Linked DNA regions of Homo sapiens. The protein of the gene in region 1 interacts with the protein of each later gene in a pairwise test. Each region holds a gene or a part of one and is shown in the gene's direction. Other genes may lie near its edges.

Region 1 (7,042 bases):
TTCAAATTCTGCTGCTGCCCCAGCTCTATGTGGAAATGTTAGTGCCTGCCCTACCTCTTTCACAGACATCTTCCAAAGATCAAAAGAGAACATGTACGTGAAAGTGTTCTATTTGGTAGGGGGAATTCAACCTTGAGGAGGATGAAATGGTTTTGATTTCATAGGATGGAAAGAAAATCTTGAATTAAATCAGATTAGATCTTTGTGGTTTTCTCCTTATATGTTTAGAGGTCTTGGATGGTGGTTTTATTTTTAAATAAAAACCTAACAGTAAAACTAAAGTGAAATAACCTTTAGTTAAAGATATTTATCCAAAAAAGATGTGCTTATTATGTTGAATACAGATGTGTTTATGATGTTAAAGGACAAGAATAGAAGAAATGGACATGACTGACATTGCAGCTTATTCAGCAAAACTCAAATTTAGAATATTGTGACATAAAACCCTGATATTGAGTTTACTGTTCCCTCATCTCCTTCTGACATCATGTTTTCATGGTGCCATTCAAGCCCAAGATTCATTTTTTAAAGTAAGCCTTCAAGGTACATTGCTCACAAACGTAATATCCTCATGAAGTCCCTAAATAAGGATGTAAATGTAATTATTCTTTTAAGGAAACTATCGTGGGAAGGAAATATCTTCAATTCCAGCATAAAATCATCCCTGAATTGAGGATTTTAAAGCTTTTGGAGCCAACACCAATTCACTTGCATCACCAGGCCAGAGTAGAAGGGCTCAAAGCTCTCCTCCCCAAGAGAAAGCCCCTTGGTTTGACTCTGTTCAGGATAAAGTACTGCTGTATAGGCTTCCTTACTTAGTTTATTGCCAATTATGTCAGCTTTTCATATTGATCAAGTAGTCAATATAGGAGGTTGCTTTTACTGAAAGGGAGAGGTAAGCTCTGTCACCACAGTGATCTTACAGATTTTAAGGTGCCACATGTGGTCCAAAATGTAATTTTCTCACTACAATTCTTGCAGTCTGATAATTAATGAAGTCCTACGAATGCACAATGACTAGTGAGTAACCAATACCAGAAGAAGCTGGAGACAGGCACGCACTGACTAGAGCACTAGAATGTGAACACCTGAATACCTTGAAGAATCTGTGATCGTTTTACAGCCCAAGCACAGTATTGTTAGCATTGTTATTCCTGCAGTATTTATCTGCTCTTCTTAATCTTCTTGCTTATTGATTAGTATGGCATGGGGAGCAGCACCAAAGCCTCCTTCACCCCCTTTGTGGACCCCAGAGTATACCAGACGTCTCCCACTGATGAAGATGAAGAGGATGAGGAATCATCAGCCGCAGGTAAGCAAGAAGGGCCCTGTGTTTAAAAAACAGCTTCGTCTTCCTTTCTGGTATGACCTGATAAGGAAATTAATCCTCAGTTCAGTAGTTAAGCTGATTACTGCTTAGGTCCTATCTTAAAAGGAAGACTTTTTAAAATTATTATTTCTGTAGGACTCCTAAAACAAATGTATTACTTTCCATTTTTTTTCCCATCTCTTCTATTTCGTTTCTGGTAGACCCAGGGGTACATAGGGACCCTAGGAAAAGCTGTTCCTCAGTGATCTCTGAACATAACTAAATGTTTCCCCAAAACAATTTCTGGGTACAATGTTTTACACACATTAGGCACTTAATAAGTGTATGGTACATTGTGTTGAGTTCTAGGTGTGTGCTTCCCACCACAAAGATCAGGCTGATTTAAAGGAGTCTTGCTTTCTAATCTTCTTCAAGTAATTAATCATCAAAGTCAGCTTAGGACAGTTTTTCAACTGATAAACTGCAATTTTAAAAAGTAGATCTTTTTTGCCTATATACAAGAGTGGGGATGGTGTATTTAATTTGGGACTTTCTAGACTCTGCAAGTAGTGTCTATAAGCCTGTTTTTCTAATGAATAAAAGATTCCTTTGATGAATGACTTAGACTTTATTCTACTAAAACAAAAAAAAAGTGTAAAATAAGGAGAGTTTCAGAGTTTCCTTGCCTTTACTATAATTCAAACCAAACAAGGAGAAATCATAGTGTTTTGAAGCCCCATCTCCATAAGTTATCTTTTAAGATGTCACTGACTTCTCTGATTCTTTTTCTCAAAGCTCTGTTTACTAGCGAACTTCTTAGGCAAGAACAGGCCAAACTCAATGAAGCAAGAAAGATTTCGGTGGTAAATGTAAACCCAACCAACATTCGGCCTCATAGCGACACACCAGAAATCAGAAAATACAAGAAACGATTCAACTCAGAAATACTTTGTGCAGCTCTGTGGGGTATGTTGGTGCTTTTTTTTTTTTTTTTTTTAAATAACCACTCATTAATGAACTGACCCTCAAACATTAAAAGCCTGTGGATCTTGTCATCAAAAGAACACTGGTTGAATCCTGGGTATTAGAGACCTAACTTGGGACTATCTTGACCTCAGGAGAAACCAAAAGGAGTTTTATATGTAGAAATAGCTGATACGCTACTAGCCAGGAAGACGAGATTAGATTCAGAGCAACCTTGTCACACAATAGTGATAGGCTAAAGCCAACAAGAGAACTAGCTACCACTGAATACATTGAGTGGGCAAAGCAAAGCCTATAATGTGATCAATCAGAGGCGATTTGTGTCTGGCACTTTGTGATATACCCCACGTTCATTCTCCATGATCCATACCACATCCTGCAAGGGGAATATGAGCATAAATAATGGCATAAACCTTTATTTCAAGCTGAAAAATCAGCCCAGAGTATTTTTGTGAATTACTAAAGGTCATAACCCTAGCAATAACAAGATAAAACTTGAAAAGAACAACAAATAATTTAATGAACTTTCCCTTTTAGTTTAAAACATCAATCTGCATTTTCTCGTGAAAAAGATCTGCAGGTTTTAGCTGACCTCAAACTCAGGAGAGGCATGATGAGATTCTATCAAAGTCTTGGTCTGTGTTACTATAAACATCTCATACAGATTAAGGAAGGACATGTCCCCTGTGTACCCACTGAAAATACTAGGCTTGGATTGGGGAACCATAATTTTAAAAGGCTGAAAGCATTTGAGATGTTAGCGGGGAAGAGTGTGAAGCCTAGGAACCATTTCATGATAGAGGCTCTGTCCTCTGGAGAAGAGACAGAAGAGAACAAGATAGCCACATTTAATACTGAAAGGATTAATATATGGACAAAAAAGCAGACATTTGTGTTGATCAGAAGATAGAAGTACAAGACGTAAGAGAAGTTAGAGAGTTACATGTTCATGAATAAAGTACACTGCACAATGAGCCTCTCAATGTGTGTGTGTGTTGAGGGGTGGATGATACATTTCCCTAGCCATAAATTTTTAGGATTACAACTACCCAGACAAAGCCACTTATGTGCCTGTGCTTCTGTAATAGGGATTACTGCATGGGTGTTGGGCTGCACTAGATTTAGAGACCTGAGAAGTCCCTTAAAGTGAGTATGTCTGTGACTCTCCAGCTATTAACACTTCTCTTGAATGGGTTTATCATTTCCCTAAAAAAGAGCAAAAACTTGAGGGTATGGGGCATAAGATAGTTACATTTTGATTCAAGAAGGAGGAAGGGCCTTTCTTCCATTGGAGTATGGAAATGGAAATTCCACTGTATATTGAAGGTGGGTAGGCTAGAGACCACTGCATAGGGGTGGGGGTGAATCTTGGGGAAGAAGAGAAGTGATTTATAGGGAGAGCCAAGAAAGAAGTGGTTTTTCCAGGCAGGGAATAAAGGCAAATTATGCTAGCTTCACATCTGTGCCTAAGGCTCCTATTGACAAGGACTCTCTGCATTAGGTAGTAAATAACTAGATGTATGAATGCTGCTAACTTTATAAAAGAAAACTGTAATTTCATTACCAGAAGTACAATGATTTAATTATTATGTCAGAGCTTCTACATTCATTAGTTTATATTTACCTACTTGCCCATTAGTGTATATTTACAAGTCACAGTTTCTTAAATTTTATAGGGACTCTCGATGCAGAAGATTAAAGTTCATGAAAAGTCAGTCTTAGGGTGCTTCTTAAATTTACAGGTGTAAACCTTCTGGTGGGGACTGAAAATGGCCTGATGCTTTTGGACCGAAGTGGGCAAGGCAAAGTCTATAATCTGATCAACCGGAGGCGATTTCAGCAGATGGATGTGCTAGAGGGACTGAATGTCCTTGTGACAATTTCAGGTATGTTACTAAGATGATGAGTCCCCCAGGTCCATACAGCGGGAAAGGGATCCACCTCATTTCTGCAGAAACAGTTAGTTCTGCCCTTCCCAGCTAACAAACAACACAATAAAGTATAGCAGTATAGCCAGAGTGAGATTGCCCACATTTTGTAACACTGGGAATTCTGACCTCCAAAAAGAAGTCTCTCACCTCTGCATTAAATCTGAATTAGGCAGAGACATACCACAAAGGCTATATATTTATAGCTCTTTACCTCTGTCAGGACTCAGCAAGGATCTTCGGATGTTTTTAAGGTTTCTGCACTCCAGTTATTACCACATACAGACAGAATATCAAAATGCAGGCTTCCTAGAGGGACATTTAGTAAGCAGAAATTTCTTGGTCTCTTCCCTCAAAAATTCTCTTGCTTATAGCCCACTGATGTTTTGGCAGGTGCAGCTGGCACACTGGGTGATCAAGTCTACAAAAAGATTTGAGTGTGGGAATCATTACTGCTATGCTCTGTAGCTTTCTGATTCCCAAAAAGAGCCTTATATAGGAAAAAAAAAAAAAGATGGAGACTAAAGTGAAGGCCTTGTAACAAGTTAAAAATGCAACCTAAAAGAGGGTAGTTTTGTTGAAAGTTTTTTTTCTTTTTGGTATTTGAAGGAGTTTAACGAGTAACACCCGTCACTTCCCCTCTCATTCCATCTAGTATGGAACCAACTTGCTACTGCACTTTATAATCACCTAGGGAGATGTGAAAATCTAGGCTGCACCCCCAGACCAGAGTCAGAATCTCTGGGGGTGGGGTTTAGGCATCAGGAGCGTTCATAGTTTCTGATGTGTTTCCATTGTACAGCCAAGTTTGAGAACATGGATTTATGCTCAGCCATTGTTTCACGAAGAGACAACACAGGGATGCTGGTTTGAACTTTCCTCAAAGTTCAGCTGTACTTCCATTTTGACAAAATGCTTTTGCTTGTCACTAAACTTCCTCTTTCTTTTACCTTTCCACTGAATGCTCAGTTTCATCTCTTTTTATTCTCCCCAAATAAGGTTAACCAGGTAAATTCCTTTTGTATTGCCATTTGAGTTTAATCCCATGTAGTCTTTTGTTCTGGTTAATTGCTGTCCTGATTGCTATACTACCAAATCAAAATGAAAACTGCATATCTGCCAAAAGTGGGAATGCAACCAGAAAATTCACATTCAGACTTCATTATGTTGTTAGTGGCACATCTTCATTCTTAACAGTGTAAGAGTTTCCTTTTCTCATGAGGCACAGATAGGGAAAGGAGAAAATGAAAATAGGAGCAAAAGATTCTTGAACTAACCTTGGATTCATATTGGCATAGAAAGGAGGAAACACTGGCTCTCGTGTCCATCCTAGCTACTGTGATCAATGTGGATTCTAGGCCTTTGGTTACAAAATTGAATACTGACCACACAATGATTCCCTTAGTTTAGGTGATGAATGTGCTCTCCTGTCAAATGCATGTGTAATGCTTTACTAAGTTCTCTTCTGCTGGTATATATTCATCTATAAAATATAAAACATTTTTTTTGGGAGAGGCCGAGGCGGGCGGATCATTTGAGGTCAGGAATTCCAGACCAGCCTGGCCAACATGGTGAAACCCCATCTCTACTAAAAATATAAAAATTAGCTGAGCATGCTGGGAGCGGCACCTGTAATCCTAGCTACTTGGGAGGCTGAGGCAGGAGAATCGCTTGAACCCAGGAAGCAGAGGTTGCAGTGAGCCGAGATCATGCCACTGGACTCCGGCCTTGGCGACAAAAGTGAAACTCATGTCTCAAAAAAAAATAAATAAATAAATAAATAAAACATTTTTAAAGCCTAAGATAAAGAAAAATAAGTATCCAAAAAATAAAACCCATAGAGCTAAATTTATCATTAGTTAGGAAGAGTCATCCCAATGGACATTTTATCTGGTGCAAATCATCAAATGGAGTATATCAAGTTTTGCTACTTGTGTACTCTTCAATATTGTCTAAATATTTTATCATCCTATGAATTCTTTATTCCAAGATCACTTTACCAAACGGAAATTTAAGTTTTCAAGTTTGCATCCTTTTTTTCCTATTTTTGTTCAGTATTCCTTTCAGTGACTTCAGCACCATAAACCTGCCCAGTATAATTTTCTGAACCCATATTATCCTCTTGTTTGTTATTAGGTTATACGGTGAAGGAAAGGCAGGTGCCAAAATGCCCAGTTGCCAACACTTCTTCATGTGATTGATCTAGAATGTTCTGGAACTCTGATCACTCTGTTGAAGAGTTAGCTCTTACTAAGTTCAGCAGACACTGCTTTGCATTGGGAAGAGAGAGTAAGAGCACATGCTCAAATAAGAAACCACCTGAAGATAAAAGACATTGTAATTCTGTGATGTGTCTAAAACACGTAGAGCTATTTTAACCATAAGTTCTGGCAGAAACACCATTTTAATGACAAAGTGCTGGGGACACTGGTTATTATGCCTTCATACACACACACACACACGTAAATAAAATAAATTAGAAATAAATGGAGGTGGGGAAGGAAAAAGTGAGAGCTGTCACAGCAATTTGAAATTAAACCTCTATTATTTCAACAGGAAAGAAGAATAAGCTACGAGTTTACTATCTTTCATGGTTAAGAAACAGAATACTACATAATGACCCAGAAGTAGAAAAGAAACAAGGCTGGATCACTGTTGGGGACTTGGAAGGCTGTATACATTATAAAGTTGGTAAGTCTCAAGACATGGAATTATAAGTTTGGTCTGTTTACTCAATCAGACTTACTTAGTTAGGTTTCACCTAGTTTTTTCTATCAGATTGATGATGCATGTGTGACCAGCTTCAGATGTTGCTGGAACC
Region 2 (4,772 bases), on another chromosome or scaffold:
GCCTGTCGGGGGGTGGGGGGCTAGGGGAGGGATAGCATTAGGAGAACTACCTAATGTAGATGATGGGTTGATGGGTGCAGCAAACCACCATGGCACGTGTATACATATGTAACAAACGTGCACATTCTACACATGTATCCCAGACTTAAAGTATAATTAAAAAAAAAAAGAACTATCATACAGAGTATGTGCTGTAGTAATTTCAGGAAACAGAAGGTCAGAGGGCTCCTTTGGGAAATATTTCAGATCCATAGCATGCTGCTGAGGTTTTGTAATTTTGAAATATAGGTGAGTACCAAAGAGACAGACAAACTAGAAAATGACCTGAAAAAATTTCAGATAGCAAGCAGCAAAGTTTTCAGACTCCATTAGCTTTTAATTGGTAGTCATGCAAATACTACTGCAAATCCAGGGGACAATTTAATGGACTTTTGGGAAGAGCAGAATTTTTAGAGAGTGCTGTTAATAGTCGTAAGAATAGTTGCAGTGACTAATCCTACTCCAAAGATATCATCACCCTCCCACCTTATAGAGCCTCTCCACTTCCCCCATTCAGTTCTAAACTGCCTGGTTTAGAAGGCAGGCAGGCATTTTGAAGCAGGTTAGATTCATGGATCTTAAAGACCTGTTTCTCTCCTTCTATCTCACAGCCCCTTTTCCCTGTCTTTTATGCTCTGTAGAGTCCCCCAGGGTATTTTCTTCCAGTGACAAAATATATGGCTACTGCCAATGTTCAGTTCACTAAGTATTGATGAATCACCAGGTACATGAATGCTCCACTCGATTCTCTGGGACCAAGAAAGATAACGAAAAGTCACTGTAAAAAATGTCCCTCATTGGTACAAATGAACTACAGAACCCTATGGTTTTTGGCATGGAAAATTAATAGGGAATGAATTCCTTCATTAGGGAAGCATAGCTGGCCAAGCAACCCTGGATGTGTCTATTTCCTGGAATTTTAACAGTCCCCCTCACCAAGCACAGATCTCAGATCCCACCACAGGCAACTCACAACATCCTCAGTCCCAGCCCTCTTCCATATTCTGGTCTGTGAGGCCAGACCAACTTCTTAACCACCTTACTGTTTTCTTTGCCTCCCAACTCTGGCTGGCCCAGAGGTGTATGCCTTACTTCCTGCAGAACATTTTCTACACTTCCCTAAGCTTTACTTGGGTCAGGACTGAGCTGCTCAGACTTTCTTAACCCCTACTTCTCCATCCCACCTTCCACCTGGGAAATTCTCATCTTCCCCAGGTGATAGTTTTAACTTGGTGAGTTATACCAAAATGAAGCTCAGTCTTCAGCTGAGACCCAGCTTCCAACATGGAAGGGAGAGCCATTCTCCATTACAGGCCCCCAGTGCTACAGAAAGGGAGCCATAACATTCACACAGCAAGAATTATGTATTTGTGGTAACAGGGGGGCCATGCTCAGTCTCATTCAAGTATGAGAAGCTTACCATAAAGCAGGAGAAATAGAACACATGCAAAAGTAACTCAAGAAATAGAATATGACAAATGTACTCAGTGGCACTGATGGAGTAGTAAAGGGGCATAAATGAGGGAGAAAACTTTTCTGAGTGTTTAAGCACAGCTTGAAGAAATGAGAGGCTTTTGAACTGGATCTTAAAGAACGAAAAAGGTTTCCATAGCAGAGATGGGCAAAAGGACAGGCAAAGAGAAAAAGCAAACCACACAGTGGGCAAAAGGAGGCGTTCCTCGGGTGTAGAAAAAAGTACACTAGGACGTGAGTCTAAAGAGCTGGGTGGGTGTGAGTATCCAAAGCCATCTCCTATGGGCTTCTTAAATGTTTTGCCTATTAACTTTTTATTTTAAACTTGAATAAAACTTTGTCCCTGTCTTAATTGTTGAATCCTTTTTCTTTTCAGGCCAGAGAAGGGGAAGTAGCCATTATCGATAAAGTCCTAGACAATCCAGACTTGACATCTAAAGAATTCCAACAATGGAAGCAGATGTACCTCGACCTTTTCTTGGATATCTGTCAAAATACCACCTCAAATGACCCACTGAGTATTTCTTCTGAAGTAGATGTAATCACTTCCTCTCTAGCACACACTCATTCATACATTGAAACGCATGTCTAAATGTATTCTGCCTTCAGACCATCTAGTACCTGCTGGTACTCTGAACAAGTATATAAGGTAGTTTTTATATCAATGTGTGGAACACTTGACAAGCTATACTTTAATGTTACCAAACTATATGAAACAAACCATATATGGTCACAATACCACTATCTTTAATGAGCATTTGTATATTTTATATGCAACAGTGCTCAGCTTATGTTTACCATGTGCAAAATCAACTGTCTTTAATGACTTAAAATTAACTTTTGCAAACAATTCTAAATACAGGTGGTCTTCAAGTAGTAAAACCACAAAAGGCAGTTTTCTATCTATGGTCATCTTTTCTCCCTTTAAGTTAATTTTATATAAACAAGACTTCAAAAGTAAATCACATTTTTTCAGGTGCAGACATCCTTGTGGGTGGGAAAGAATTTAAACCTTTTTTATATTTATTAAAATGTTCTAAGAATTTTCTTAAACATTGCACAAAGTTTAATGCTGTAGTTTTATTTTTGTGAAATGTAGATGCGCATACAAGAGCTAAGCAAAATAGAAGAGCATCGACATAAGAAAAGTTCAGGTATCTAATATTCGTCTTAATAGTCTATTAACTTGTGAAAGCTAAGTTAATGGAAATATTATTCCAAATCTATGAGAACACTTGGTGTATCAGGGCAAAGCTTTGTAAGATGTTTTTGTAACTAAGACCAAAATTGAAGATAGAGCTGCTTTATTTTCTTGGTTTAAATCTTCCTTTATTTTTGTAGTGATGAGATGCTGATTGTGTACAGAAGAATTTGAGAGGGGATTTTTAAAAACTGACTTAACACACCCAGAAAGGCAGCTAACAGCTATATATATATATAAATTTCAGCCCAAACTCATGTTTTTAAACTCCAACTCTTAAAAGACAACAAGGTATAAACTGAAATGAATCAACTTTCCACTTAGTTTCCAATTTTCCCCTAGTCCACTAATTAAACTTAGGTAATTATACTTCAGGTAGGGAAGTACAATATGTTTAGTTTCAGGCTGATGTGTGTTATAAAAAACAACACTGAAAAATAAAAATGTACTTCCCTTCTAAGGAGCAAGCAGGTGATGGTCATTCAAAGAGATGTCACATTGAATTATGAGAGAAACAATTTAGAGGTTTTTTTCCTGGCTTCATGAATTGTTCTATAGAGTGGATGAAGTCTAAGGAAAAGTCCTCTTCATATATTTCCATTTATAAGCGTCTTGTTTTTGAAAGTGATCACAGCATGAAAATGACTGTGCTGCTTTTTAGTGTCTGGCTGCATAATGTACAAGTCACAATTTGCTGTTTTTTTCAGGAGGAGAAAGGGAACCTCCTTTACTATTCTATATCCTAAAATCTACTTCTAATCAGCTTTATACTGTTGCCTGTACAGCTCAGTGAATGTACTTTCATCTTTAAGAGTTCAGATATATGCCAGTGAATATTTTTGCTGTAGAGGAGAAAGTAAAAACTCCACAGCGGGGATCTTTTTCTTTGCTTTTGAAACCACCATTGAATCACTATCGTTTTGCAGACTTTGCACAACTGTACAGGAGAGTGGCCTTTCTACAGCACATTTTCAGTAATCCTATATTTAGTCAAAATGGATGAGAAATCATGTATTAATGTTTGTATGGAATTTTGGGTCCAGTGTAATATTTTTATCATTTAAAAAGAACTCTATTTGTAAAAACATTTATTTACTGCATGGATATTGACGCACATTAAATTTGTGGGATTTTGTATATGTAAAAAAAAAAAAAAAAAAAAAACAAAAAACCTCTTGTCCTAAAATGAAGTGTGCTTGTTAACAGGTGTTTAGACTTATTGATGTTTACTAGACCAAATGTGTATGTTCACTTAAAAATATATGTACCTGATGGATGTGTCATGTTTACAGTGGCCAGGTTGTGGCCTGTAAACAGCAAGCAGTTGACGGGAAGACTAGCTCTGTTGCTACTAAGCAGCTTTTACTTTTGTAAAGTCAGCTCTGTTGTTTTAAATGGTAAAAATTAAACTAATGAATTTGACAAGACTCGTGGCTAGCCTAGCATGAAAGAGACCTTTTAACACTATATAATATCTGTACATTTTATTGCATTCGTTTCAAATCTAGGAGAGAGGCAGCACTGTAAACTGAAGTCAAATAAATTCAGCTCTTAATGAATCCTTATAAAGCACCTACTTTATTCATGCAAAGTCCTTACCACATTTCTTTGTGACCTAATTATACAGCCACCACCCCCCACCCTAGTTTCGAGTTCTAACTTTGCTGCCTCATTGGTGATACAAGCCAAAAGCAGCACCTGTTCAGTATATACAAGTGTCTTATCTAAGACCCTGAAAAATCAAGCTCGTTTCCCATTTACCTGAGACGAAGTTTAAAACTTTACCTATTCCTCTTTCCTTTCTCTGTGATTCTTTTGGGGGAAGTGGGGGTAACCACCAAAAATTGATTTTTTTTTACAAATATAATCTACAGTATGTCTGCAGAATGAACATTTAAAAGAGTATGAAAGAAATCAGTTTTTGTTTTGTTTTGGTTAGACATTCCACTTAACCAGAGGATCCTGATTATTATGGCTAAGGGTTGATGAAATGTGACTTAAAACCAGTGAGCTGTCTAAAGTCAGGGCAAAAGCAGCCTAGGGTGACACCGGTGACAGA
Region 3 (7,749 bases), about 160 Mb from region 1:
CTCATATAATCTGTGTATTTCTTTGACTTAGCATAATATTTTTAAGGTTCCTCCATACTGTAGCATGTATTGGTACTTCATTTCTCTTTATGGCTGAGTAATATTCCATCATATGGATATGCCATTTTTTGTTTATCCATTCATTCAAACAACATTTGGGTTGTTTCTATCTTTTGGTTGTTGTGAATTGGGCTCCTACGAATATTCATGTATGAGTATTTGTTTGAATTGATATTAGAAAAATTATTCTTTGGCCTATGATAGGTGTTGCAACTATTGTTTCTGAGCTTGCCATTGGTCTTTGACTTTGCTTTTGTCAAGCAGAATTTTGTAAGTATTGTTCTGTGGTTGAATTTGTCAGCTTTTCCAGCTAATGGGTTTTGTGACACAGTTGGAAAGGTCATCCTTATAACTTGAGGTTATAAAACAACTGTACCATCAAAACCTCTGCTTATCCACGTATTTCCTTACCAATGAAACAGGTATTGAAAACAGCCCTACTTGCCATTCCGTCCCCTCCCAGGGTTATTGTGAGGACCACATACGACAAATGATATGAAAGAGCCTTACAAAATATAAAGCAATATATACACATTAGGCATGTTGTCATCATCACTATTAATTCTATTAAAATCTGCCATCAACTAGCTGAGTTCTGCTTGTTGCTTTCATTTTGCAGAGCAGGGCTTGAAGGGCAGAATTATTCACTGAGCTGCCCAAGGATGTATTTGCTGGTAGCAACGTGGAGAATGTTACAAAATTAGTCATCTCGGCGAGGGGGAGGTGTTCATATTCGACCAGAAAAATAAAAGTACTTTCAACCAAAAACTATTCTGGCCACTTTTCCTTCAGATGAAGCCTTTTTTCTTTCTACCAGGAAAAGAAACCGGTTCAGTGAGTTTTGCATTGTTTAGCTGTTATTGTAATTTATGCCTCACTAGTGGTCACTTGTGACATGTTTTCCTTATATTTTTAACCCCAAATTCTTTTTTTAAATGGAAAACTTTACGTTGAACTCCGTATTGAAACAATGTAATTATAGGGAATGAAAAAATGGGTTATTACTTGATAGCAATTATTCCTATGCTGATTCCTCCGGGATAGAATCGTGCACTGTTTAAGTCCTTGGGCTCCGCTATGAGCCATACCTGGGCTTCAGTGCAATTAAGTTACTAGCTAGCTTTGTGATCTTGGGTAACTTGCTTCACTGCTCTTGGCCTCCGTTTACCCAACTTCAAAACAAGGATGATTTACATCACTGGACTCATGGGGCTGTAGCAAAAAATCAGTGATAAAATCTACATAGAGTGCTTGGCCCTGTGCTTGTGTGCAGGGAGAACTTGGTAAATACTAGCTATCAGTATAATTTAGGAAAATCTAAAAGAATTCAGGAGATGAGCCCCAAGGAAATGGAATAAACACTTCCAGGGGCTTTTCTGGTCCTTAGTGGGTGGCATAGATCAAATCACATGGTAGAGGCCCTCCCCTCACACCTACCACATTTATTTGGAGACAAATCTGGTTTCTGTTACTACCATGTGAAGGGTAAACATTGGGAATAGCAGTTGGTTCTCAGACAGCAAGGAAAAAGTGGGCTCACAGAGGAGGAGTCACAGGAGGGCAGCGGGAGGGCTGGGGTGGGCTGTGGGGAGGACTGGAAGGGTGAGGACCTGGTGCTGGGGGCCTGCCCAGGTCACACCCACATCTTCTTGGGGATAGAAGATTCCAGATGATGTGGGTTTATTGTGTGTGGTGATGGATTTTTCAGGGGACACAGACCTTTTCCTCTTTTTTTTCCTCTCTTCCTTTTCCCAATCTGGGTATCTGTGGAGACCAAGCTCTAGTCCTAGGTCTGGCTTGGCTGGGCCCTGTATTAGTCCATTTTGCATTGCTGTAAAGGAATACCTGGGGCTGGGTAATTAAAGAAAAAAGTTTTATTTGGTTGGGTGTGGTGGCTCACTCTGCAATCCCAGTACTTCGGGAGGCTGAGGTGGGAGAATTGCTTGAGACCAGCCTGCCCAACATGGTGAGACCCCCATCTTGAGAAAAAAAAAAGTTTTATTTGGCTCATGGTTCTGCAGGCTATACCAGCATAACACCAGCATCTGCTTGGCTTCTGATGAGGCCTCAGGAAGCTTCCAATCATGGTGGAAGGTGCAGGCATATCACATGGTGAGTGAGGAAGCAAGGAAGAGGAGCGAGGTCCCAGACTCTTCATCAACCAGATCTCTTGTGAACCCATTACCGTGGGGTGGACACCAAGCCATTCCTGAGGGATCCATCCCCATGATCCAAACACTGCCCACCAGATCCCACCTCCAACGTTGAAGAACACATTTCCACAGCTCTAAAAAAGAAATTATGTCTGTGAGACTTCTGCTCTATGCCAGGCACTTTAAATCCATGATCGTGTTGGATCCTGTGCCATGGGTGGATCACTACCCTATGACAGATGAGGAAACCAAGACTCAGAGAAGGTGTATTCCTCCATGAGCCCCACACACAGCTGGTGCACAGCAGAGCCAGAAGGTAAACCACCATCTGACTTACTCCAAAACCCAGCCTCTGCCAGGTGTCAGCTCAGAGCGCTATACCATCTTTGGCCTTGGTTTTGTATGGCTTTTTGTGACATTTTTGTGACATTTCCATGGCTCAGCACCCTACACATAGGTCTCCTAGAACTATTTGTGGATTTAAAATTTTAATAATGGTGAAAATAGCTGACATTTACTGAGTTCCTGCCACCAGTGGGCACACAAGCAGGTTGAGCCACTTGCTCAAGTTCTCATGAGCTCAAGGCTCGTGGCAGAGCCAGGAGAGGATCCAGTCTGTCGTACTCCAAGGTGTATGGTTTTAACTTTCATTTTTCTTGAAGAATCTAGACTTGCAGCAGGGATGTTAATCTCTGTGCCCATCTTTCTCAGGTAACGTGGGGCTTTTGTGGGTTTGAACTAGTTAGAAGAGGACAGCAAAGGGCCTGAACATGTCCAGGGGAGGCGTGAGGCAGTGGGGTGATGGCAAGGGCTGCGGGCCAGTGGCATCTATTTCTGAACTGGTGACCTCCTGCCTCCGGGTACAAGGCTATAATAAGCCCCATGATTCACCAGTTGGACTTCTCCCTGTCGTTGCTCCAAGCAGGTCTTGTGCTTTGCCACCTGTGGGCCCCAGCTCATGCTGTGTGCTCCAGGAGAACATCCTGCCCCGCCTCACTCCCTTTGCCATACTTGCCTGGGGACGCCCACTGCAGCTGCCATGTCCTCTAGGAAGCCTTGATGGACTAGCATGGATAACCTATTCATTTCTGAGTCCAAACAGAATCATTTATTATAGACTCAGAAAAAGGCAAATGGAAGACTATACCTATTTTGAGAAATTTGGGAACATTTATCTCAGGGGACAGTCAGGGGCCAATACACATTAGTGACAATCTTAGCATATGAAATTCCAGTGATCAGCGACTCTTTAGTGCTTGACTCAGTTTTTACAGAATGAATCTTATTCTACCTTAATTCCACATGAAATGGGTTTGGTCTCCCTTGTAGAATGCAGGAGACTTTGAGCCTGGGTTGGAAGGCTGGTGACCTTGGGTAAGTCACTTCCCATATCTGAGCCTCTGCTCCTTTGTCTGTGAAAGAGTGGTGCTTATACCTATGTTGTTAGGTTGTTGGGGGATATAAAAGGGTAATAACAGTTGCTACTGTTTATTGAGTGCTTGCTATGCACCAGAGACTGTGCTAAGCTTAGCTTTGCATTTTTCTTTGATCTTTTCAAGAGCTCCTCTCATTCCCGATGTTCCTTACCCTGCAATATTTTTTCCCATAGCACTTTACATTTTGTATGATATTATATAATATACTTACTGTGCTTATTTTTGGTCTTCCTCTCCCAGGGCCTCTTGCCTCGTACAACTCCAGGGGGCACCATTCACAATGCTTTCTACTCCAGGGGTGCTTTTTACTAAGAATATTAGCATGAATGGTGGAAACTGCTGGAGTTGTGTGATGTGGAGCCCCGGGAGCTTCAGAAGGTCAGGGATTTTTGTGTGTGCCAGTTCTGATCATTGCTGTATCCCTGTACCCAGAACGGTGCTAGACCTATAGTAAGCATTCAGTAAATATCTGTTGAAAGAATGAATAACATAGCCTCCAAAGAGAGCTGATTTTACTATCTAGGAAACTGAGGCTCAGTCTGACTTATGAATTTGCCCAGAGCCCCACAAGCCAATGACCCACCCAGCTGTTCTGCCTCCAGTGTGCCTGCTCTGCGTGGCTTTGCTAAGCTGCATGCCTTTAACTCCTCGCATCGTCTCTGCCACCAAGTAACTGCTCAACAAATATTGATGCTTTTCCCTACATGGGTCAGGCCCTCTGCTAGACTATCCCAGTAGAGTGACAAACCATCATATAGCTGTTGATTCCAGAAACTGAATTAAATTGCACAGTGCAAAAAAAGGGAGGATCTTAAGTTTTTGGAAGAAAAATCCCTAACCCAAGTGCTAATGTTTGGAGTTTGCAGAAGCCTCTCAAGACTTACCAACCCGATTACTTTTCCTGCTGCCTTCCCTTTTGTGAGCGTTTCTTCCCCTTTTTGCTTGCAGTGAGTTCTGCTCTCCTGTAGGCTACAATGTGTCAGTTGTTATAAAATCCGGGAGGCGGAGTCTAGTGACGTGAGCAGTGGGGGAGAGCTCAGCCAGCCCTGCAGGGCGAGCAGTCCAGCCTTGTGTTCACCGGAGCTTAAGCGTTGCAGCAGGAAAACTTCCATCTCGCTCTCCTGGCTTTGATCCTCACTGGACATCAGACCAGAGGCACCGAAGGGAGGGAGGATGCGAGATGACCGGCCCTTTGGCAACCTGACCATCGACTTAGCAGAGCCTTCAAAAGCAAGCCAGGGGCTGGCTGCACGACCAAAGAGGCGCCGCGCCTCTCGTGGATGTGTGTGTGTGAGTGATCCAGCGAGTGTGTGTGCGTGTGAGGGTGTGTGTGTGTATGCCTGTGTGCACAGCACAACTGTGTGCGTGTCCCGGTGAGTGTGCCTGTGCATGCGTGAGTGTGTGTACGTGTGCATGTGTGTGTGAGTGCGCTTGGTTATTACTATTATTATTATTTTTGGAAGAAAAATCTTTGAAAATCTGGGGCAGGTTACTGTGCTCCTAGGGTGATTCTTCTTTTGCAAGAGGAGCTGACCAGGGCAAGCTACTAGAGCCATTTCTCGGCAAGTAAAGAGATTTTTCCTTCCAGAAGGAGAAGGATTTTTCTCCCTGCTCTGCAGCCAAGTGAAAGAGATTAGTCCCTAAACCTGTGAAATCGACCAGAGCTGTGTGATTACCAGGGCTTGAGAGAGGACTCGAAAAGAAAAGGAGAAATAAATCAAACAGCCTGTCAGTTCCTTTGGCCACGTCAGAAGATGTCATCTCAAACTAAGTTCAAGAAAGACAAAGAGATCATTGCTGAATATGAAGCCCAAATAAAAGGTGAGATGCGGGCTGGGAGAGTTTTCCTTCTCCTCCCCTTTCGTTTTTCTCTTGTTCTGGTTCCCATCCCCCGCTGCCCCCCGTTTTCCTCTCTGCCATTATGAAATGTTATGCATCAATAATCTTTTTGTGAGGAGTAACAGTGGCAGCCGCACAAGTCCGGACTGGTTTCAACTGCAGATAGCGCTGGGGCTGGGAGTGTGGATTATGGAATGGGCAGCAGTCTCTGCATTGCAGGTGTGTGAGGAGGATCCTATGCCTGACTTTAGGAGTGTCGCTGATACCCCATCATCTTGGCGGTGACATGTCACTCTAAGGCCATTTTGATAGTCACTACCTCCACCCCTTCCCTGCCATGGTAAAAGCCCTTTAATATTGGGGTATTTTTTTACCATCTGCTCTTTTTTTCCTCCCCCTTTTTGGTTTCTGTTGGTGGTGGTGGTTTTGCCTCCGCCTCTTTCTCTGGGCCGGAATTCACATGCATGTGCACAGCGAGGCAGCATCCCTGGGCGGCACTTCTTTGTCGGTGTCTCTGGGCTGGCCTGGGTTGCCATGGATTAACTGTTATGGGGCATATTGATCCAGACTAATGCAGGCATTTGGGCATAAAAAGGGAGCTTGGTGCAGAAAATGTATTATCTCGCAGTGTGCAGCCCAATCACTCTGTGCCCTGGCGTTTAGGTTCATCAGCTTTCATTCAAAGCCAACACCTCGGCATGCCGTTTGGGCTGGTCAGCGCTGCCTGGCTTCCGGGGTTCCAGGAGAAGCCTGCCGGGAGGGCGAGATGACCTCTGGCTGCTGGTTGCACCTTCTGTGCCACCGGGTGTATACTTCTTTCAGAAGCCGCTCCCTAAATCCACGCTAGCCAGGCGAAATAGGAAAGGGAACACAATTGCATGGCTAAATGCGGGCTTGCCGCATCCTCATTCAGGCCAGACTGGGGCTTCTCCCACCCCTACACGTTCTAGGCTCAGCTTTGGCAAGGAAAATCTAAAAGCTCCATCCAGCAGGCTCCTCCTTTCTCTGAGGATGTGCCCTGTGGGAAGCCTGGGCTCGTGCCTCTTGGCGTCCGCTTTCTTTCTGGTCATGGTTCTCCTTGCTGCGACACAGGGTGTGTTGTGGCCTCTCCTAGAAAGAGTAAAGACAAAATGCATCTTCAGCGGACCTTGAGGCCTATCTTTGAGGTTATGCACAGGCTGTTGAGCAAGTTGGGTATTTGGGGCTCAAGCAACCTGAGGTTGCCACACCTGCTTCTGGGCGCTGCTGCAACTGAAGACCCAATGACCCAGGGAGCTGGGTGGCCTCCTTAAAAGCAGCGGGAAGGCTGGGCACCGCAGCTGCCATACACGCTTCAGATGCTTGGGAAACTTTGGGAGTGGAGCAGCCACGGGGGGAGGGATCTGTTTTTTTTCCAGTCTCACCAACAGTCTTTTTGCCTTTTAGTCCTGGTCAAAAGCCCAGCGTGCTCATCACCTCTGGGCATATCCTAGGGCAAGAGGAGCAGAAAACCCTGCTCTTCCCTGGTCTCCTGTCTTTGGTTTTTCAGTTCAATGTGGAAAACAGTGACTTACGATGTCTCAGCCTTGCTGAAAATTTAGAAATAAGCGCTTTATTGGTCAGAGATTTTAATTCACCCAACTGCTCAATACAAAAGCCTAGTTTCAATCTTTGAATAGACTCTTTTTAGGGAGTTTATGTTTTATAAAATGAATTTGGCCAATTATTATTATTTTATAAAAATTAAGGTTGCCATGAAAATGCCTTGAGAGAGAAGGGGATGTTGAGTTTTGGACAGTTCAGGTTTTATGATATTTTCTTGGTAGGAAATGTGCTTATCTCATTTTGGAAGGATTGCTACTACTGGGCCAGTGAACTTTTCTTCAGGGCCAGTTAGGCATTAATTGCCCTGGCTGATCCTTTTGCTTTTTACCTTTCATCTTTTATTTTAACAACTAAGCAGCGAGTACCCTGAGTTTTATCAGAAATACACCAATTACCAGGCATTCATCAGGAAATGTGTCCAAATGATCTTGTCTCTTCCAAATACTAAATTTCCTTGCATTCTGGCTAAAGGAGTTACATCTTATTCCTTTAGAATTGACACCCACAAGGTCAGGTCAGGATATGGCTGTCCCTGAAACCCTCTGGAATCTTTTCTTTTAAAATTCTGTGTGTTAATCACCATCATAATTATTGATGTGTGTCTAGGGCCCTGCATTTTCTATGGCTAACTCCCAGACATCACTTACTCTTGGCCCACACAATGTACAGTAGGGTTA
Region 4 (7,042 bases), on another chromosome or scaffold:
TATGTAGCGCGCTCTCTCTCTCTCTCTTTTTAATCCCTCTTGGGTAAGTGGTTATGAATAGCGAAAATATGTGAATGTCCTTGGCACTTTGAATCAATAAATGCCTTCTGTTTTGTGTGTATGTACAGAATACTGGGAAAAATTTTGTCATTAAGTTTTACTTTAACTTCTTTTCCCCTAAGATTGAATAGCCATAGTCTTTCAGATTTTAGCTGCCCAGATAACTGGAACATAGATAATTTTTTCCAAGTAGGAAGTGCGTGCCTTTATTGTCTAATAGATCCATGGTCTTTGATGACAAAGGACTTTATGAGATTTGCTAGTTTTTCCCTCAACAAAGAGTGAAATCAAAAATCTCACTACCTTTTGCTTTTAACCCCCTCCCACCCCCGCCCCCTGCCCCATTCCCTGTGTGGTGAATAGCCTGAGAATAGGGACAGTGCCCAAGAGTTCACCCACTTTCAGAGCCAGAGGGCTCCTGTGACCCACGTCGCTCTCCTTGACATCATTTCCAAAAAACAAATCTCGGGGAGCCTTTCCTGGCAGCAGCCCACAGTGGGAGTGGAAGGGCCTTGGAAGTGTTAATTCTGTAAGTACTTCTACTGGTTTTATGTGTCACTTCTAGATCTTTGTTGGTAGAACCATGAAGGATTTAAGGTGCCAATTTGTTGTGACAATAACTGGTGTAAAAGTGGGCTTCTCACGGTCACTCAGGAGAAGGGACATGGTCCCTTCAGTTGGTTACTTCTGATTCCAGGCTGGCTCTGCATTCTTTTGTGTATCTTCAGCCTGGGCAAACAAAAAGCTCTTCCTAGGTTAGCAAAGCAAATGGGGCGGGAATCAGGACTCTGGCATGGCCCTTACAGGCAGGCAGTAATGAGCCAGGGCCGATTCGGGATGGAAGCCAGCAAAAGTGGGTCTGGGCCTGGCGTTTGGCTGACCCCGGTAAGAGAGCTCCTTTCTCAGGTCTGTCAGCGGCCAGCAGCCTTTGTGCGGCTCTCTAGAGTTCAGATCCAAGCAGACATGTTGGGTCTCAAAATCAAGTCCTGTGAAGTGTTCTTGGTGTGAATGAAAGGTTCTTTAGAGAACTAGAGGCTATAGAAAAAGAGGTGAAGGTGACTCAAACTTGAAGGAAACATTGAAAGGGCATGATTGTTGCCTTAGCCCTACAGTGAGCAAGTTATTTATGCCTTTTTGCATTCCCTTCGATGCACCCACAAAAAGGGGGAGGTAATAAATAAGTAGTTTTTTTTTTTTTTTTTTAATAAAAAGAACTAAGAGAGTAAGAAGGATTGCCAAATGGAGTAAAAGTCAATCATGATTAACATGGTATAGCTGACACAGGTATTTGGAAGAGAAAAAGAGTCATGTCTTGGAGTGGTTAGGGTAGAATTTTAAACACGGGCCTTTTGTGGGGAAAGCCAGTTATGAGTGCCAAACAGTTTGAAAACTGGCTTATAGAGCTTTTGTACTTCTGGAATGAATGTTAGATATAGTTTGGAGCAGAGCTCAGGTACAAGCTCCATCTAATGGACACCTGTCATGACGGGTCAGAGTTGTGAAGTTAAATATTTGGTTGTCTGTCACCATGGAAACGTGTGTAGTATGCATAATATGACATAAACACAACCCTTTCCAGGCGGAAAAAAGGCTGATGTCTAGGATCACAATCTCTGAATCCTTCTGATCTTTCTGTAGCTGTCTCTCTGGATCAATGAGAAGATGCTCACAGCCCAGGACATGTCTTACGATGAAGCCAGAAATCTGCACAGTAAATGGTTGAAGCATCAAGCATTTATGGCAGAACTTGCATCCAACAAAGAATGGCTTGACAAAATCGAGAAGGTGAGTTAAAACATTTGATGTGGCCATGGTGAGAAAACAAACAGGGTAGTAATAAACTCCTTTTTATTTAGCACATTTTCCAGCATATCTGATCTTATCTGTACATTTACGTAAGTTACACAGCCAGTAATAGCTCCCTTTGCACGTACGGGTTCCTGACTTCAACCCATCAAAAGGGAAAAAAGCAGAAACCCAACCAGTTAGTAGAAAATGCTTGATTTATCGTAGAACGAATACTAGGCATTTAGTTTCTGTTGTGCCTCTCATCTGCTGTTGCTGATGGACTGTGAGCTCTCATGCAGGGATTCCACTGTCTTGATCATATTATTTGTGTTGTACTGTGACAGATTGCACATAATTTTAAATATATACATATTTTTTAAAATTGCTTTTTCCTATGAGACTACTGTATACCAGGCGCTATAATAATTACTATGATGTGTTATTCTTGCACAGAGAGATTCTGGGCAGCATAACTGAAGATGAATATGGAGTCCCCCCCTTCCCCCCGACTTCTCTCCTTTTAGACTTTTTATAGTGTTTCAGATTCTTCACGGTTAAAATAATGTGTTGGCAGGGCACGGTGGCTCATGCCTGTAATCCCAGCACTTTGGGAGGCCAAGGCAGATGGATCACTGGAGGCCAGGAGTTTCAGACCAGCTTGGCCAACATGGTGAAACCCCATCTCTATGAAGCATACAAAAATAGCCAGGCCTGGTGGTATGTGCCTGTAATCGCAGCTATTGGGGAGGCTGAGGCACGAGCCCAGGAGGCAGAGGTTGCAGTGAGCTGAGATCACGCCACTGTACTTCAGCCTGGGTGATAGAACGAGACTCTGTCTCAATATAATAACAATAATAATAATAATAATAATAATAATAATGTGTTGTATATCATCTTTGGTCATGGAATGGAGGAGATAAAGTCACGTTATTAGCATTCAGTATTCCGTTGCCCCAGTTGAGACTATTTCAGCATGTAACATTTATTGCTTAATTCCCATGAAACCCTTGTAATGTACACAACCTAGGGGTCGTTGTTGATTTTATTGAGCAGTAACTTCATGTGGAAAGACTGTGTGTATTGAGTGAATGGTTAAATCACAGATCAAATGTCCTAGGTTTGTTTTTCACAGTGACATTTTTTCTGTAGCAAACTTGTTTATTTACAACCATGTTGGTTTTGTTTTCCAGGAAGGAATGCAGCTCATTTCAGAAAAGCCTGAGACGGAAGCTGTGGTGAAGGAGAAACTCACTGGTTTACATAAAATGTGGGAAGTCCTTGAATCCACTACCCAGACAAAGGCCCAGCGGCTCTTTGATGCAAACAAGGCCGAACTTTTCACCCAGAGCTGTGCAGATCTAGACAAATGGCTGCACGGCCTGGAGAGTCAGATTCAGTCTGATGACTATGGCAAAGACCTGACCAGTGTCAATATCCTGCTGAAAAAGCAACAGGCAAGTGGACAAGCCATCATGGACTTGGGTGTATTTCTGTTTTACAGCCATAGTCCTTAGAGTCTTTTCTCACCCACTGCATTATCAGGAGTCCACCTTCCATGGGAAGGCATTTTTAACCCAAAATATTACTTGCTCTAACAGCATCGTAGAACATTTCCAGAATAGAAAGACACTTGTCCAAACTAGAAAGACACAGTATTAGGAGTATTGGGTGTTGGCTGTCTGTGTATGGGATTGATAATTTTCTTAGTTAATGGGTATTATCACCGTTTAACAGTTAAATAAATGTTCATCTCATTCAATTCTGCATTTTACACGAAAGAAATATTCTCATACTTTGTTGTTTAACATCGTGATTTGTGACAGTTATCTGAGTTGTTCAAGGCACTTTATAGGTAATAAAAATAACTGTTTATATTATATCACCGTAGAGGGCTTTAAGGGCAAATGAATTTACCTCAGATTTACTTGAAAACAGTTCCATTGATGTTGAAAAGCAAGTCAGTGGCAAAATGTTTGAGTGGCTCCCATGGCTGGCTTTGCGGTGTGGCCAAGTCCCAGGCCCAGCAGTTCTGCTTAGAGCCAGTCACTGCAAAAGATAGTCTGTGCTGAGCGCTGAGGCTGCTTCTCTGCCCTCAGATGCTGGAGAATCAGATGGAAGTGCGGAAGAAGGAGATCGAAGAGCTCCAAAGCCAAGCCCAGGCCCTGAGTCAGGAAGGGAAGAGCACCGACGAGGTAGACAGCAAGCGCCTCACCGTGCAGACCAAGTTCATGGAGTTGCTGGAGCCCTTGAACGAGAGGAAGCATAACCTGCTGGCCTCCAAAGAGATCCATCAGTTCAACAGGGATGTGGAGGACGAGATCGTGAGTCGACCCCTACTGCACACATGGCTTTTCCACGAGCCCCCTTGCCTGTGCTAAAGCCCACATTCTCACTTCTCAGTCATCCTCACCTTGGGCCACGTTGGCAAGCTGAGCTGCCAAAGTCCACGCTCTGGATGGTCTAAAGTTTCTTTCCCTTTTCACCCTAAATGTAACTCCATTGGTCCTCTCACGTTATCTAGGGATACTGTAGGATTTTAATGGCCCTAAAACAGACTTTTTAAAAGTAATGAGGACTCACAGTGAGTTTGACCTTGAGGATGAGGTAGAGTTGGAAAGACTCTCCCTAGCCCTGTCTCGGAGAACAAGGGCGTGCTTCCCCAGACAGCCCTCCCGAGGGGGCTGAGCACTCTCTGAAGCTCACCCTTGCTGTCCCTCACTGCCCCTCACTGCTCGTTTGTGTCGTATATTTGTTCCTCTGAGTGGATCTGACCACTTATTTAAAATTCTTCCCAGTTGTGGGTTGGAGAGAGGATGCCTTTGGCAACTTCCACGGATCATGGCCACAACCTCCAGACTGTGCAGCTGTTAATAAAGAAAAATCAGGTAAGCCTTTCTGCTCGAGCTAGTTCTGTCTGATAAATAATTGCTCTAAATTATGAGACTGGGAATGGCAGAGAGCTTTGAAGCCTTGCTATTTCTTTCTGGCCCTAACAGCTTGACATAAGCAGCAGACGGCTGCCATTTAGCAAGCCTTTGTGTGTATTTTCCGCTCCCTCCAGACCCTCCAGAAAGAAATCCAGGGGCACCAGCCTCGCATTGACGACATCTTTGAGAGGAGCCAAAACATCGTCACTGACAGCAGCAGCCTCAGCGCTGAGGCCATCAGACAGAGGCTTGCCGACCTGAAGCAGCTGTGGGGTCTCCTCATTGAGGAGACAGAGAAACGCCACAGGCGGCTGGAGGAGGCGCACAGGGCCCAGCAGTACTACTTTGACGCTGCTGAGGCCGAAGCCTGGATGAGCGAGCAGGAGCTGTACATGATGTCAGAGGAGAAGGCCAAGGTGAGAGGAGGCGGGAAGCATCCCTGTCCCAGGAGAGCCTCAGATTCAAACCCTGGGCACACTTTCTGCTGGCGGCTCTGTCTGTATAAAAACTTCCCTTGTAGCCTTTGAGTGTTAAGGGGACACCATGTGCATGAAGGTGTCTGAAATCCAGCTGCTGGTTTCCCTTTGGTGCAGCATTTTCTTATCTGAATCCTAGTGTGCCATTAAGAACAGGTTCATCCTTTCATCTTTGAAATATGCCAGAGTCCTTCCTGCTGTCTATTTATAGGTTCCCTAAACTTTACAAAATACAGGATGGCTTGGAGACAATTTGAAAGTATTGCAAGGTTCCAGGAATGCTGCCATTTACATACTTGAGGGACCTTGAGGAATTCCAGCGAACCAGGCACACTTGGTCTGCCCAAGCTTTTCTCTGAGAGGGGCCCTGCTCATTCTGCGTTCTCCTTGTGTTTATCTTCTGCACAGGCTTCTGTGGTCCAGTCCATATGGAAGCTCTTGGAACACTTCTGTGTTCCACTGTCCGTACTGCACCTCTGGAGTTTTTCTTTCTACTGATCCTTCCTCCTACCCTGCTGAGCAGCTGGTCTGTCACTCCTTAAGGGGTAGGGCCAGAGGGGACCGCTATGGTTGTGATGTTCTCCTGTCTTTGCAGGATGAGCAGAGTGCTGTCTCCATGTTGAAGAAGCACCAGATCTTAGAACAAGCTGTGGAGGACTATGCAGAGACCGTGCATCAGCTCTCCAAGACCAGCCGGGCCCTGGTGGCCGACAGCCATCCTGAAAGGTGAGCGCTGCTTCATGAGTGTGAGACCCGGCTCTCGATTCCTCTCAGTTAGGGTCTCTTGCTAACCCCCACCAAAAGAAAATGTCAGCATTCATCATGACTTGCTGGTAAGGCAAATCTTTGAGAAGCATTTTTAAAACAGACCCATCATTTAAAACATCCTATCATGATTAGGATGGGTGAACTGTTATATTAGGAAATTGCTCTTGTGGGTTAAATATCTCCCGTTGGCCAAGGCTCTCCTGAAAGAATATTGGTGTCGTGAGTCAAAAGTACAGGTTGACTAGGCTGGGCAGTCAACGTAAAGTGGCTTACACTTGTAATCCCAGCACTTTACCAAGCCAAGGTGGGAGGATTGCTTGAGCCCAGGGGGCCAAAGACCAATCTCGGCAATGTGGCGAAACCTCATCTCTACAAAAAATACAAAAAATCAGCTGGGTGTGGTGGCACACGTCTGTACTACTCAGCTATTCAAGAGGCTGAGGTTGGGAGGATGGTTTGAGTCCAGGAGTTTGAGTCTACAGTGAACCATGTTCACACTGCTGCACTCCAGCCTGGGTGACAGAGTGAGACCTTGTCTCAAAAAAATAAAAATGATCAGAAGTACAGGTTGACTTGCATGGTGGATACAGATAGTCATAGCACTTACACTTGGGTTGAAAAAGTCATCCAGTTTAGTAAAGTAATTACTAGTTTTAAGAGGAGCATTAGACAAGAATGCATAGACCTGTAAAATGAAGGGGCTCCCAGGAAGAACAAAGTGATAACACCTCCTAACTCTTCGATATCAAGTGATTAGAACACCTTCGAGGAAAAAGAAGAGGTGAGTGTGTGGTACTCATCAGGCCCCTGTATTAACTTCCAAAGCAGTCATTTTAGGATTTTTGTGTAAATGCCTTTTATGACTTGGAAAGGAATTGGCCTTGTGCATTTAACCAGGGCAGGTTAGGGGAGATGAGGTCAGTGGCTCTGTTGGTGTAGGAGGTTCTTAAGATGTTCATGATCAGGATTCCCAGGAAAGTGGCCTTCCTAGTCTCCAGGGATAGGCACCAACATGTCCTTTGT

The links.
Region 2: the proteins of TNIK (region 1) and CNKSR2 interact in a two-hybrid assay, tested with the Homo sapiens proteins (2 studies listed by BioGRID and IntAct).
Region 3: the proteins of TNIK (region 1) and SRGAP3 interact in a two-hybrid assay, tested with the Homo sapiens proteins (2 studies listed by BioGRID and IntAct).
Region 4: the proteins of TNIK (region 1) and SPTBN1 interact in a two-hybrid assay, tested with the Homo sapiens proteins (2 studies listed by BioGRID and IntAct).

Annotation. Positions count from the first base shown.
Region 1 is NC_000003.12:171,079,388-171,086,429, reverse strand, and holds part of TNIK (TRAF2 and NCK-interacting protein kinase), read left to right. Parts: intron 1-1,200; coding exon 1,201-1,312; intron 1,313-2,104; coding exon 2,105-2,275; intron 2,276-4,035; coding exon 4,036-4,179; intron 4,180-6,777; coding exon 6,778-6,912; intron 6,913-7,042. UniProt on the Homo sapiens protein: Serine/threonine kinase that acts as an essential activator of the Wnt signaling pathway. Recruited to promoters of Wnt target genes and required to activate their expression. May act by phosphorylating TCF4/TCF7L2.
Region 2 is NC_000023.11:21,650,418-21,655,189, forward strand, and holds the end of CNKSR2 (connector enhancer of kinase suppressor of ras 2), read left to right. Parts: intron 1-1,888; coding exon 1,889-2,104; 3' UTR 2,105-4,272; downstream 4,273-4,772.
Region 3 is NC_000003.12:9,246,606-9,254,354, reverse strand, and holds the start of SRGAP3 (SLIT-ROBO Rho GTPase-activating protein 3), read left to right. Parts: upstream 1-4,708; 5' UTR 4,709-5,403; coding exon 5,404-5,470; intron 5,471-7,749. UniProt on the Homo sapiens protein: GTPase-activating protein for RAC1 and perhaps Cdc42, but not for RhoA small GTPase. May attenuate RAC1 signaling in neurons.
Region 4 is NC_000002.12:54,641,285-54,648,326, forward strand, and holds part of SPTBN1 (spectrin beta chain, non-erythrocytic 1), read left to right. Parts: intron 1-1,698; coding exon 1,699-1,845; intron 1,846-3,038; coding exon 3,039-3,302; intron 3,303-3,944; coding exon 3,945-4,169; intron 4,170-4,643; coding exon 4,644-4,733; intron 4,734-4,909; coding exon 4,910-5,191; intron 5,192-5,846; coding exon 5,847-5,977; intron 5,978-7,042. UniProt on the Homo sapiens protein: Fodrin, which seems to be involved in secretion, interacts with calmodulin in a calcium-dependent manner and is thus candidate for the calcium-dependent movement of the cytoskeleton at the membrane.